Linked DNA regions of Homo sapiens: region 2 is linked to region 1. The links come from fine-mapping of genetic effects on gene expression. Tissue or cell type: left ventricle. Region 1 holds a variant in brackets; the other region holds the start of a gene. All regions are shown on one strand. Distances are from middle to middle.

Region 1 (5,341 bases):
TCATACGTACTGAATAGGTGCTTAAAATGTGCCAGGCATTATGCTAGATGATGGGGAAATCATGATAAATCAGAAAGGCACAGCCAGGCACAGTGACTCACTCCTGTAATCCCAGCACTTTGGGAGGCCAAGGTGGGTGGATCACTTGGAGTTTGAGACCATCCTGGCAACATGGCAAAACCCCATCTCTACAAAAAATTTAAAAAATTAGCTGGGCGTAGTGGGATGCGGCTATAGTCTCAGTTACTCAGGAGGCTGAGGTGGGAGAATCACCTGAGACTGGGAGGCGGGGGCTTCAGTGAGCCGTGATCGCATTACTGTATTTCAGCCTGGGTGACAGAGTTGGACCCTGACTCAGAACAGAACAGAACAGAACAGAACAGAACAGAACAGAACAGAACAGAACAGAACAGTACAGAAAACAGGGAGAAGGAGGGGAAGGGGGAGGGGAAGGGGGAGGGGGAGAGAGAGGAGGAGAGGAGGAGAGAGGGACACATCCCTGGCTTGTCTTCATGGGGCTTATATTCTAGCAAGAGAAATGCACATGATTATTTAATCTTGGTTGTGATAAATGTATAAAGGAACAGTAAGTGGCATGAAGGTAAAGGATAGGGCATTAGGGAAAGTTTCTCCAAAAAAAAAAAAATGACATTTCAGCTGCTTAGTAAAGGCTGTGCAGGCATTAGCATTAGTGAAATTGCAGGAAGAGGAGAGGAAGGAAGGAGAATGTGCAAAGGCCAGCCTGGCACGGCAGCTCACGCCTGTAATCCCAGCACTTTGGGAGGAAGTGCTTGGATTGAGGCACCGAAGCAGGAAGATCACTTGAACTCAGGAGTTTGAGACCAGCCTGGGCAGCACAGTGAGACCCCATTTCTACCAAAAAAAAAAAAAAAAAAATTAGCCAGGCAGGATGGTGCACACCTGTAGTCCCAGCTAGTCAGAAGGCTGATGTGGGAGGATTACTGGATCCCAGGAGTTCAAGGTTGCAGTGAGCCATGAGCATGCCAATGCACTCCAGCCTGGGCAACAGAATGAGACCTTGTCTCAAAAACAAAACAAACAAACAGGTCAGGTGCAGTGGTTCATGCCTGTAATCTCAGCACTTTACGAGGCCGAGACGGGTGGATCACCTGAGGTCAGGAGTTCAAGACCACCCTGGCCAACATGGTGAAACCCCATCTCTATTAAAAATACACAAATTAGCTACATGTGGTGGTGGGTGCCTGTAATCCCAGGTACTTAGGAGGCTGAGGCAGGAGAATCTCTTGAACCCAGGAGGCAGAGGTTGCAGTGAGCCAAGATTGCACCACTGTACTCCAGCCTGGGCAACAGAGCGAGAATCCTCTCAAAACAAAACAAACAAACAAAGAATATGCAAAGGCCCTGAGGCAGAAAGGAGGCTGCACATCGGGCTGGAGAGGACAGGCAAGAGGGGGGCACAGAGGAGCTATAGGACAAGGATGGAGAATGGGGGGAGGCCTGGTCTCACTGGCCTTGTGCGGCTTTGTGGACATGTTGAGGACTTAGGATTCTGAGGTTTTTTTCTGTTTTGTTTTTGTTTTTTTTTGAGATGGAGTCTCGCTCTGTCGCACAGGCTGGAGTGCAGAGGCGTGATCTCGGCTCACTGCAACCTCTGCCTCCCAGGTTCAAGCGATTCTCCTGCCTCAGCCTCCCAGGTAGCTGAGACTACAGGCATGTACTACCAAACCCAGTTAATTTTTGTATTTTTAGTAGAGATGGGGTTTCACCATGCCGCTCAGGCTGGTCTTGAACTCCTGGCCTCAAGCAATCTGCCCTCCTTGGCCTCCCAAAGTGCTGAGATTACAAGTGTGAGCCACCTCGCCCGGCCAAGCCACGGAAGATTTCAAATAAGGGAGTGACGTGCTCTGATTTGCATTTTTCACAGTCACTCTGATTGCTGGGCAGAGAGAATGGAGGGCAGGGTGGTGAGAGTGAATCAGGTGACCCGCCAGGAAAAGGTGCACGTACTCATCGGTGCCAGAGATGATTGGGGCTTTGAGATGGAGGCAAATGGACACATTTCCGAACTAATTGAGCAGGCACGTCTACAGGATTTGGGGGTGAGGGAGGGGAGAAACCCATGGCTGACTCCTGTAATTTCTTCAGGCAGGGTACTTGGGTTGGGAGGTCTGTTTGGAGTTGTCTGGGGCATGGTGTGGGGTGTCGGCAGGATACAGTGGAGATGAGGGGGAAGTTAGTGAATTGGTGGGGCTGGAGCTCAGAGCCAGACCATCACAGGAGATGGA[G/A]GCCTGCGAGTCTTCAGGATCTGTCACTGACCAAAGTCTTGCTCACGGATGAGCCTATCATCTGTGGAAGAAAGTGTGGAATGAGATGAGAACAGGCCTGGGTGGAGGCCAGGGAATCAGCAGAGACAGCCAAGAAGGCCAGAGGCTAGGAGGCAAACCCCACAGTGTGCCCCTCCTCCCCAGGAGCCAAGACCAGAGATGGTTTCAAGAGAGGGGGCCAGGCACAATGGCTCCCGCCTGTGATCACAGCACTTTAGGAGGCTGAGGCTAAAGGATGGCTTGAAACCAGGAGTTTAAGACCAGCCTAGTTAACAAAGTGAGATCCCATCTCTACAAAACAAAAAATGAACTGGGTGTAGTGGTGCATGCCTGCAGTCCCAGCTACTTGGGAGGCTGAGGCAGGAGGATTGTTTGAGCCCAGGAGATTGAGGCTGCAGTGCACTGTGATCATGCCACTGCCACAGCAAGACTATCTTAAAAAAAAAAAAAAAAGATCAGAGAGGGGCACGACATCAAATCCTCCACTTTCTTGAGCTTCCAGTTGCTCTGATGATGATCAAGGCTGTGAAACTCTCCTTTGGCAAATGCATGAGGGGTGACTGTTGTGTCTCCGAGCCAGGCCCTGGGACCCAACTCTGGGCAGGTAGCAGCTCCCTGTGTATACCAGATGTGATAGTAAAAAACTGACACTGGGCCGGGCGCGGTGGCTCACGCCTGTAATCCCAGCACTTTGGGAGGCCGAGGCGGGTGGATCACTTGAGGTCAGGAGTTTGAGACCAGCCTGACTAGCATGGTGAAATCCTGACTCTACTAAAAATACAAAAATACAAAAATTAACAGGGTGTGGTGGCGGATGCCTGTAATCCCAGCTACTCGGGAGGCTGAGGCAGGAGAATTTCTTGAATCCGGGAGGCGGAGGTTGCAGTGAGCCGAGATCTGGCCACCGCACTCCAGCCTGGGCGACAAGAGCGAAAAACTCCATCTCAAAAAAAACAAAAAAACCTCCTGGGCCCCAGAAGATGGCAACTGCCTCTTCCAGCCTCTTCCACCTGCCTGCCTGTGCACTCCTCTGCCACTCTGGACCTATTCCATGGTGCCACGTGGTCAGGCATTGAAGGAATGGGTGGGTTTTTTTTCCATCACCCTCAGATGCTGCTGCTGGGGTTGGGGCGGGTCTTCCCTGGCTGACTCTGTCTGCCTCACCCACTCTCTCCCCATCTCTCTGTCACCACAGGTCTCCAGGGACCAAATTTAGCCCATTTTTCCTCCAAGGATTCTGGACCCTTGGCCATATTTGCCTCTAGCTTTAGGTCAACAGATTTCTAACATGGAGTCAAAAAATCTGTATGTTTAAAAAAAAAAAATTGGCTGGGAGTGGTGGCTCACGTCTGTAATCCCAGCACTTTGGGAGGCCGAGGCAGGTGGATCACCTGAGGTCAGGAGTTCGAGACCACCCTGGCCAACATGGTGAAACCCCGTCTCTACTAAAAATACAAAAATTAGCTGGGTATGGTGGCGGACCCCTGTAGTCCCAGCTACTCAGGAGGCTGAGGCAGGACAATTGCTTGAACCCGGGAGGCAGAGGTTGCAGTGAGCTGAGATCGCGCCATTGCACTCCAGCCTGGGTGACAGAGTGAGACTCTGTCTCAAAAAAAAGAAAAAAAAAAAAAAGGCCGGGCGTGGTGGCTCACGGCTGTAATCCCAGCACTTTGGGAGGCCGAGGCGGGCGGATCACGAGATCAGGAGATCGAGACCATCCTGGCTAACACGGTGAAACCCTGTCTCTACTAAAAATACAAAAAATTAGCTGGGCATGGTGGCGGGCGTCCATAGTCCCAGCTACTCGGGAGGCTGAGGCAGGAGAATGGCATGAACCCGGGAGGCGGAGCTTGCAGTGAGCCAAGATCACGCCACTGCACTCTAGCCTGAGCGACAGAGTGAGACTCCGTCTCACAAAAAAAAAAAAAAAAAAAAATTGAGGCCAGGCACAGTGGCTCATGCCTGTGATCCCAGCACTTTGGCCGAGGCAGGCAGATCACCTGCCATCAGGAGTTCGAGACCAGTCTCGCCAACATGGCAAACCCCTGTCTCTACTAAAAATAGAAAAATTAGCCGGGCATGGTGTCGGGCACCTGTAATCACAGCTACTGGGGTGGCTGAGGCAGAAGAATTGCTTGAACCCAGGAGGCGAAGGTTGCAGTGAGCCGAGACTGCACCATTGCACTCTAACCTGGGCTATAAGAGCGAGACTCTGTCTCAAAAAAAAAGCCCTTTACAAATATTAACTCGTTTAATTCTCAGAACACCCCTAGGAGGTGGGTCCTGCTATCCTGCCGGTTTTGTAGATGAGGTAACTGAGGCACAGAGAGGATAAGTCACGTGGCCCAGGTCTTGGTCGCTTCTCAGCCTCCATTTCCGAGAGGAGAAAACAATGCTCCGAAAGGGGAAGTCATCGGCCTGAGGTCACCAGCCGGGAACCGGAGGAGCCAGGATGGGGCCCGAGGTCCATCTGAGGCCAGAGCCAGTGCTGACCCGCCAGACAGGAAATCAGAGCTGGGGACTGACCGTGGGGCCCACTCAAGTGGGTGGTGTGGGGTGGTGACGGGGGCTGGGGTGAAAGCCAGGATGAGGTGTCACATTAGGCTAGGGTTCCTGCTGGGCCTGGCGGGGCAGAGACCCCTGGTTGATGCCTGGCAAGTCTCTCCTCATTTCTGCTGTGCTGTCCCCTGGGTGGCCAAGGCGCCAGGCCCGGCTGTGGATCTGACACCTCCTGCTGCCGAGCTCTGATCAGAATCTGGCTGCAGGGCAGGGGGTGAAACTGAATCCCACCAGGCCTCCCCTGGCCTGGATGTCACGGCAGACATCCCAACCCCACTTCTTGGCACTGCCTGACCCCAGCAGTGGCCTTCTTGGAACCTGGAGAGCCTGTGCCCACCCTGTGGTGCCGACCAGGCTGCTGCCTTGGCCCTGGGCTCTGGGCTCCAGGGTCCCCAGGGATCCCAGGCCCAGGCTCTTGCCCCTCCCGGCTCTCAGGTGAGCTGCTGGGATCGGGTTCCTGCGGTTTCATGTCTTTC
Region 2 (5,402 bases), 130 kb before region 1:
CTGCAGGGCAGAAGCACTCGGAAGTCCAGGGTCAGGGGTGCACTTGGACAAATAGGGATGCTGAGAGCTGCGGGAGGGTGCAGGCCCGGGAGCCTTGTCCCCACCCAACAGAGTCAAAGGCGCAGAGAGAGACAGGCAGAACTGGGTGGGGGTGTGGTCGTCCCTAGAGCTGGGGGGGTGGGGAGTTGGGGGCCCAGACTCTAGTGCCGACTCTGCCCCTAATTGGCAGAGGGGCCTGGGGCCAGCTTAGCCCCTTTCTGGGCCTTGGTTCCCTTATCTGTCGTATAAGGGATTTGGATGATATGGCCTCTGGAGCTGGAGAGAGAGGAAAGAAAAGGCAGAGGTGAGATGACCAGGAAAGAGAAGGTGGGGAGAGTCCGTGGGCCACAGCAGTCCTCCCCGAGAGGCAGAGGGTGATGAGGGCATAGACCCTTCCACGCAGGACCCCTGGCACATTCACATCCTGCATCCCCCCTGCACTTGAATAGCGTCCCCCGAAAATTCATGTCCACCTGGAACCTGTCAATGTGACCTTTTTTTTTTTTTTTGAGATGAAGTCTCACTCTGTCACCTAGGCTGGAGTACAGTGGCTCGATCTCGGCTCACTGCAACCTCTGCCTCCCGGGTTCAACCGATTCTCCTGCCTCAGCCTCCCAAGTAGCTGGGATTACGGGTGCCCACCACAACATCTGTCTAATTTTTTTTTCTTCTTCTTCTTCTTTTTTGTTTTTGTATTTTCAGTACAGACAGGGTTTCACCATGTTGGCCAGGCTGGTCTTGAACTCCTGATCTCAAGTGATCCGCCTGCCTCGGCCTCCCAAAGTGCTGGGATTACAGGGGTGAGCCACCCCGCCCAGCCTCAATGTGACCTATTTAAAAATAGTTCCTTTGCATATGTAATCGAGTTAAGAGGTCATACTGGTTTAGGGTTGGTCCTAAATCCAATACGACCAGTGTTCTCATAAGAGGAGAGAAATATAGACACAGAGACGGAGACACACAGAGGAGTCCACGTGAAGTTGGAGGCAGAGATTGGAGTGATGCAAGCCAAGGAATGCGAGGAGCCACCAGAAGCTGGAAGAGGCAAGAAAGAACCCTCCCCTTGCGCCTTCAGCAGGAGCGTAGCCCTGTAGCACCTTGGTTTCAGGTTTCTAGTCACCAAAACCAAGACAGAACAAACGTCTATCGTGTGAAGCCACCCACAATTTGGTGGTAATTTGTTATTGCAGCCCTAGGCAATGAATACACCATCTAATCCTCAGAAGAGGCAGCCTGTGATCCCCTTCCACAGATGTAAGGAAGACTGGGGCTCAGAGACGGTCAGTGACTTGGCCAAGGCCACACAGTAAAGCTGTGGCAGAGTCTGGTGTAGAATCAACGAATCAGAGACCTCAGTGGGAATCCACTCAACCCCTTGTGATTTGCAGCTTGTGGCCTTGGGCAATTTGCTCTCCAAGACTTGGGTTTTGTGTGTGGGTATATGAGACAAGGTCTCACTCTGTTGCCCAGGCTGGAGTACAGTAGTGCAATTACGGCTCACTGTAGCCTCGACCTCCTGGGCTCAAGTGATCCTCAGCCTCCCAAGGCTGAGGAGTGTGCCGCTACCCCCACTAATTTTTTAAGGCAAAGCGTAGTGGCATGCACCTGTAGCAGAAAAGGTCTCACTATATTGCCCAAGCTGAGATTTTTTTTTATCTCTATAAAGATCAATGGAGGCCAGGCACAGTGGCTCACACCTGTAATCTCAGCACTTCGAGAGGCCAAGGCAGGAGGATCCCTTGAACCCAGGAGTTTGATATCAGCCTGAGCAACATAGTGAGACCTCATCTCTACGAAAAATAAGAAATAAGCTGGGTGGGGTGGCTCACACCTGTAATCCCAGCACTTTGGGAGGCCAAGGTGGGCGGATCACCTGAGGTCAGGAGTTCGAGATCAGCCTGACCAACATGGTGAAACCCTGTCTCTACTTTAAAAATACAAAAATTAGGCCAGGAGCAGTGGCTCACACCTGTAATCCCAGCACTTTGGGAGGCCAAGGCAGGTGGATCACCTGAGATCAGGAGTTCAAGACCAGCCTGACCAACATGGAGAAACCCCATCTCTACTAAAAATACAAAATTAATCGGGTGTGGTGGCCCATGCCTGTAATCCCTGCTACTCAGGAGGCTGAGGCAGGAGAATCGCTTGAACCTGGGAGGTGGAAGTTGTGGTGAGCCGAGATCGTGCCATTGCACTCCAGCCTGGGCAACAGAAACTCCATCTCAACAAAAAAAAAAAAATTAGCCAGGTGTGGTGACACATACCTGTAATCCCAGCTACTTGGGAGGCTGAGACCAGAGAATTGCTTGAACCCAGGCAGCAGAGGTTGCAGTGAGCTGAGATCGGGCCACTGCACTCCAGCCTGGGCAACAGAGCGAGACTCCATCTCAAAAAAAAAAAAAAAAAGAGAAAGAAAAGAAACAAACAAAATTAGCCAGTGTGGTAGTGAGTGCCTGGGGTCCCAGCTACTCAAGAGGCTGAGGTGGGAGGATCATTTAAGCCAAGGAGGTCAAGTCCGTAGTGAGTTATGATTGCCACCACTGCACTCCACCTGGTGACAGAGCAAGATGCTGTATTGTTGTTGTTGTTTTGAGATGGAGTCTCACTCTTGTTGCCCAGGCTGGAGTGCAATGGCACAATCTCGGCTCACCATAACCTCTGCCTCCCAGGTCCAAGTGATTCTCCTGCCTCAGCCTCCCCATTAGCTGGGATTACAGGCATGTGCCACCAGGCCTAGCCAATTTTGTATTTTTTTAGTAGAGACGGGGTTTCTCCATGTTGGTCAGGCTGGTCTCAAACTCCCAACCTCAGATGATCCACCAGCCTCGGCCTCCCAAAGTGCTGGGATTACAAGCAGGAGCCACCACGCCTGGCCCAAGATGCTGTTTTTTAAAAAAAGACCTCTGTCCAACTTCTTTGCTGCACAGATGGGGAAACTGAGGCCCAGAGAGGGACAGCAATGGTTTTCCCTAAAAGCCCCCACCCAGGCAAAGACAAAGATGAACAGAGTGGGGCAGGCAGCAGGGGGCTAGTGTCCTCACCGTCATGGTGACAGCTCCTGGCGGCAGCTCCCAGCGGCTCCTGGAGGCCTGTGCTCAGGGTCTCAACTCGTGGTCAAGCTTATATCCTAGAATATTACACATTAACTCCCTCAAGGTCCTAGGTGAGGACTTTGCCCCTTCTACCTTGTGTCTCCCCGCCTGCATCTCCCAGTACCCAGCACAAACAGGCAGAAGACTCCTCAGCCAGCTCCACCCCACCCAGCCCGGAGCATCCTCCTGGCCTCCCTCCAGCCCAGCCTCCCCCTCCTCAGCGCTCCCAGAGCCCGAGAGGGGAAGCAGCCCCAGCTCTGCCCCCACACAAACCGCAATGCAGCCGCTTGACAGCTCTCCCAGCCTCCCTCACTTAGCCCAGCTTCCTTGCCTGTAAAAAGAGAGATTTGCTTTGCAAAAAAAAAAAAAAGTCTAGGTTTCTAATTTTCTTTTTTTTTTTTTTTTGAGACAGAGTCTCACTCTGTCACCCAGGCTGGAGTGCAGTGGCAACGATCTCCGCTCAATGCAATCTCCTGGGTTCACACCATTCTGCTGCCTCAGCCTCCCGAGTAGCTGGAACTACAGGCACCCGCCACCATGCCCGGCTAATTTTTTGGTATTTTTAGTAGAGACGAGGTTTCACCGTATTAGCCAGGATGGTCTCGATCTCCTGACCTCGTGATCTGCCCACCTTGGCCTCCCAAAGTGCTGGGATTACAGGCGTGAGCCATTGCGCCTGGCCTAAGGTTCTAATTTTCTATGATGTTATGATTCATTGTCAGAGAGCATTATGTTTTCTTCTTCCCTCCCCATATTATTTATCTGATCGGACATGTAGGTTTCAAAACCAATACACGGATTCAAAGAAAAGATTTCAAACTATTTACAACAAATGGTCAAAAGCAGAGGAGAGCTGGGCGCGGTTGCTTAAGCCTGTAATCCCAGCACTTTGGGAGGCCAAGGCAGGCGGATCACCTGAAGTCAGGAGTTTGTGACCAGCCCGGCCAACATGGTGAAACCCCATCTCTACTAAAAATACAAAAATTAGCTGGGCGTGGTCGCACCTGTAGTCACAGCTGCTCAAGAGGCTGAGGCAGGAGAATCGCTTGAACCCGGGAGGTGGAGGTTACAGGGAGCTAAGATCGCGCCACTACACTCCAGCCTGGGCGACAGAGTGAGGCTCCGTCTCAAATAAAAAAATAAAAAATAAATAAAAGTGCAGAAGGAGTGGGAGGGCTGAGTGGGGGACATGGAGGATGAAAATGCTTTGCTCTTGACTTCTGTTACTTATGTAACTGGCATGCTTACTATAGACAATTAGAGATATTAAATAAAAAGAAAAATAATCACTCATAATGCCACCGCCACGAGGGAACTGGCTTACGCTGTTGGCACATTTCCTTCCAGGCGGTTCTCCACAGATTTACATTATAGACACCCCTCTGTCTGTGCAATTGTTTATCTCTCTTCATTTGGGAAACATTAAAGACCACAAATCTATATTTCAGAACCATACTTTAATGCCTGCGAAATAGTCTACCTTTCAACGACTGAATTTATTTAACCAATTTCCTTCTGCTGAACACTCACATTAATTCTACATTTTTGCTATTAAAAATACTGCTGCATTAAATCTATTTGGACATAAACTTTGGCTGCATCGTGACAACTTATGTAGGGCAGATTCCCAGAAGGAGAACTTTTCTAGAGCTCAGGATTTGGCGAGCCAGAGCGTTTTCCATCAGAGTTGGCGGTGGCCACTCCGGGCAGGATGTGGGGAACTGGCCTTGCCGAGGGCCCTCGGTGCCAGGAGTCTGCAGGTGGCTCACTGCCCAGTGCCCACATAGGACACCACCTTCAGTCCCCTGCCAGCCCGGAGTGAGGAGTGACTTCCTCCTTTCACCCACAAGGAAATTAATCCTCTCTCGGCCTTTCTCCCAAAGGCATGGTAAAACCCCAGTGAGATAAGGAATTTTAAAAGGCTTTCTCCCTGGAAACTAATCAACAGAAACTATACCTTTTAAAGGTGGCATTTTTCTGATTATAATAATAATATTATCTCACTATAGGAGGTTCCAGAAAGTACACACAGTAAAAGGAACTTAAAGTTCACTTGTTTTAAAATAATGTTCAAAAGCAGGGGAAAATGACCATGCATATCATTTACGTACTTTGCTGCGTATATATTTTATACCAATGAAAGATTTAAAAAAAGAAAAAAGAATGGCTGGGCATGGTGGCTCACCCCTGTAATCCCAGCACTTTGGGAAGCTGAGGTGGGTGGATCGCTTGAGTCCAGGAGTTCGAGACCAGCCTGGGCCACATAGTGAG

Alleles and levels. Positions count from the first base shown, and alleles are read on the strand shown. Sizes are in standard deviations (SD) of each study's normalised expression.
For the expression in left ventricle of the gene that starts at base 3,268 in region 2, A is the high allele of the variant in region 1 and G is the other (large effect, 0.77 SD a copy in GTEx).

Evidence for each region. PIP is the estimated chance that this variant, and not a neighbour inherited with it, causes the effect.
Region 2: LGALS2 starts here. The variant in region 1 is the best candidate, but not a certain one, in a credible set for the expression of LGALS2 in left ventricle (GTEx, PIP 0.74).

What each region holds. Positions count from the first base shown.
Region 1 is chr22:37,704,027-37,709,367 of GRCh38, forward strand. All of the region lies in intron 3 of TRIOBP (TRIO and F-actin binding protein), which reads left to right. Among named protein-coding and RNA genes, the nearest start is that of TRIOBP, 9.6 kb to the left of the region's middle. The variant G/A (reference allele first, on the strand shown) is at 2,268.
Region 2 is chr22:37,576,820-37,582,221 of GRCh38, forward strand. LGALS2 (galectin 2) reads right to left here and starts at 3,268. Exons shown (of 4, transcript NM_006498.3): 1 at 3,081-3,268. The coding sequence starts at 3,086. RefSeq lists a silencer at 3,595-3,654.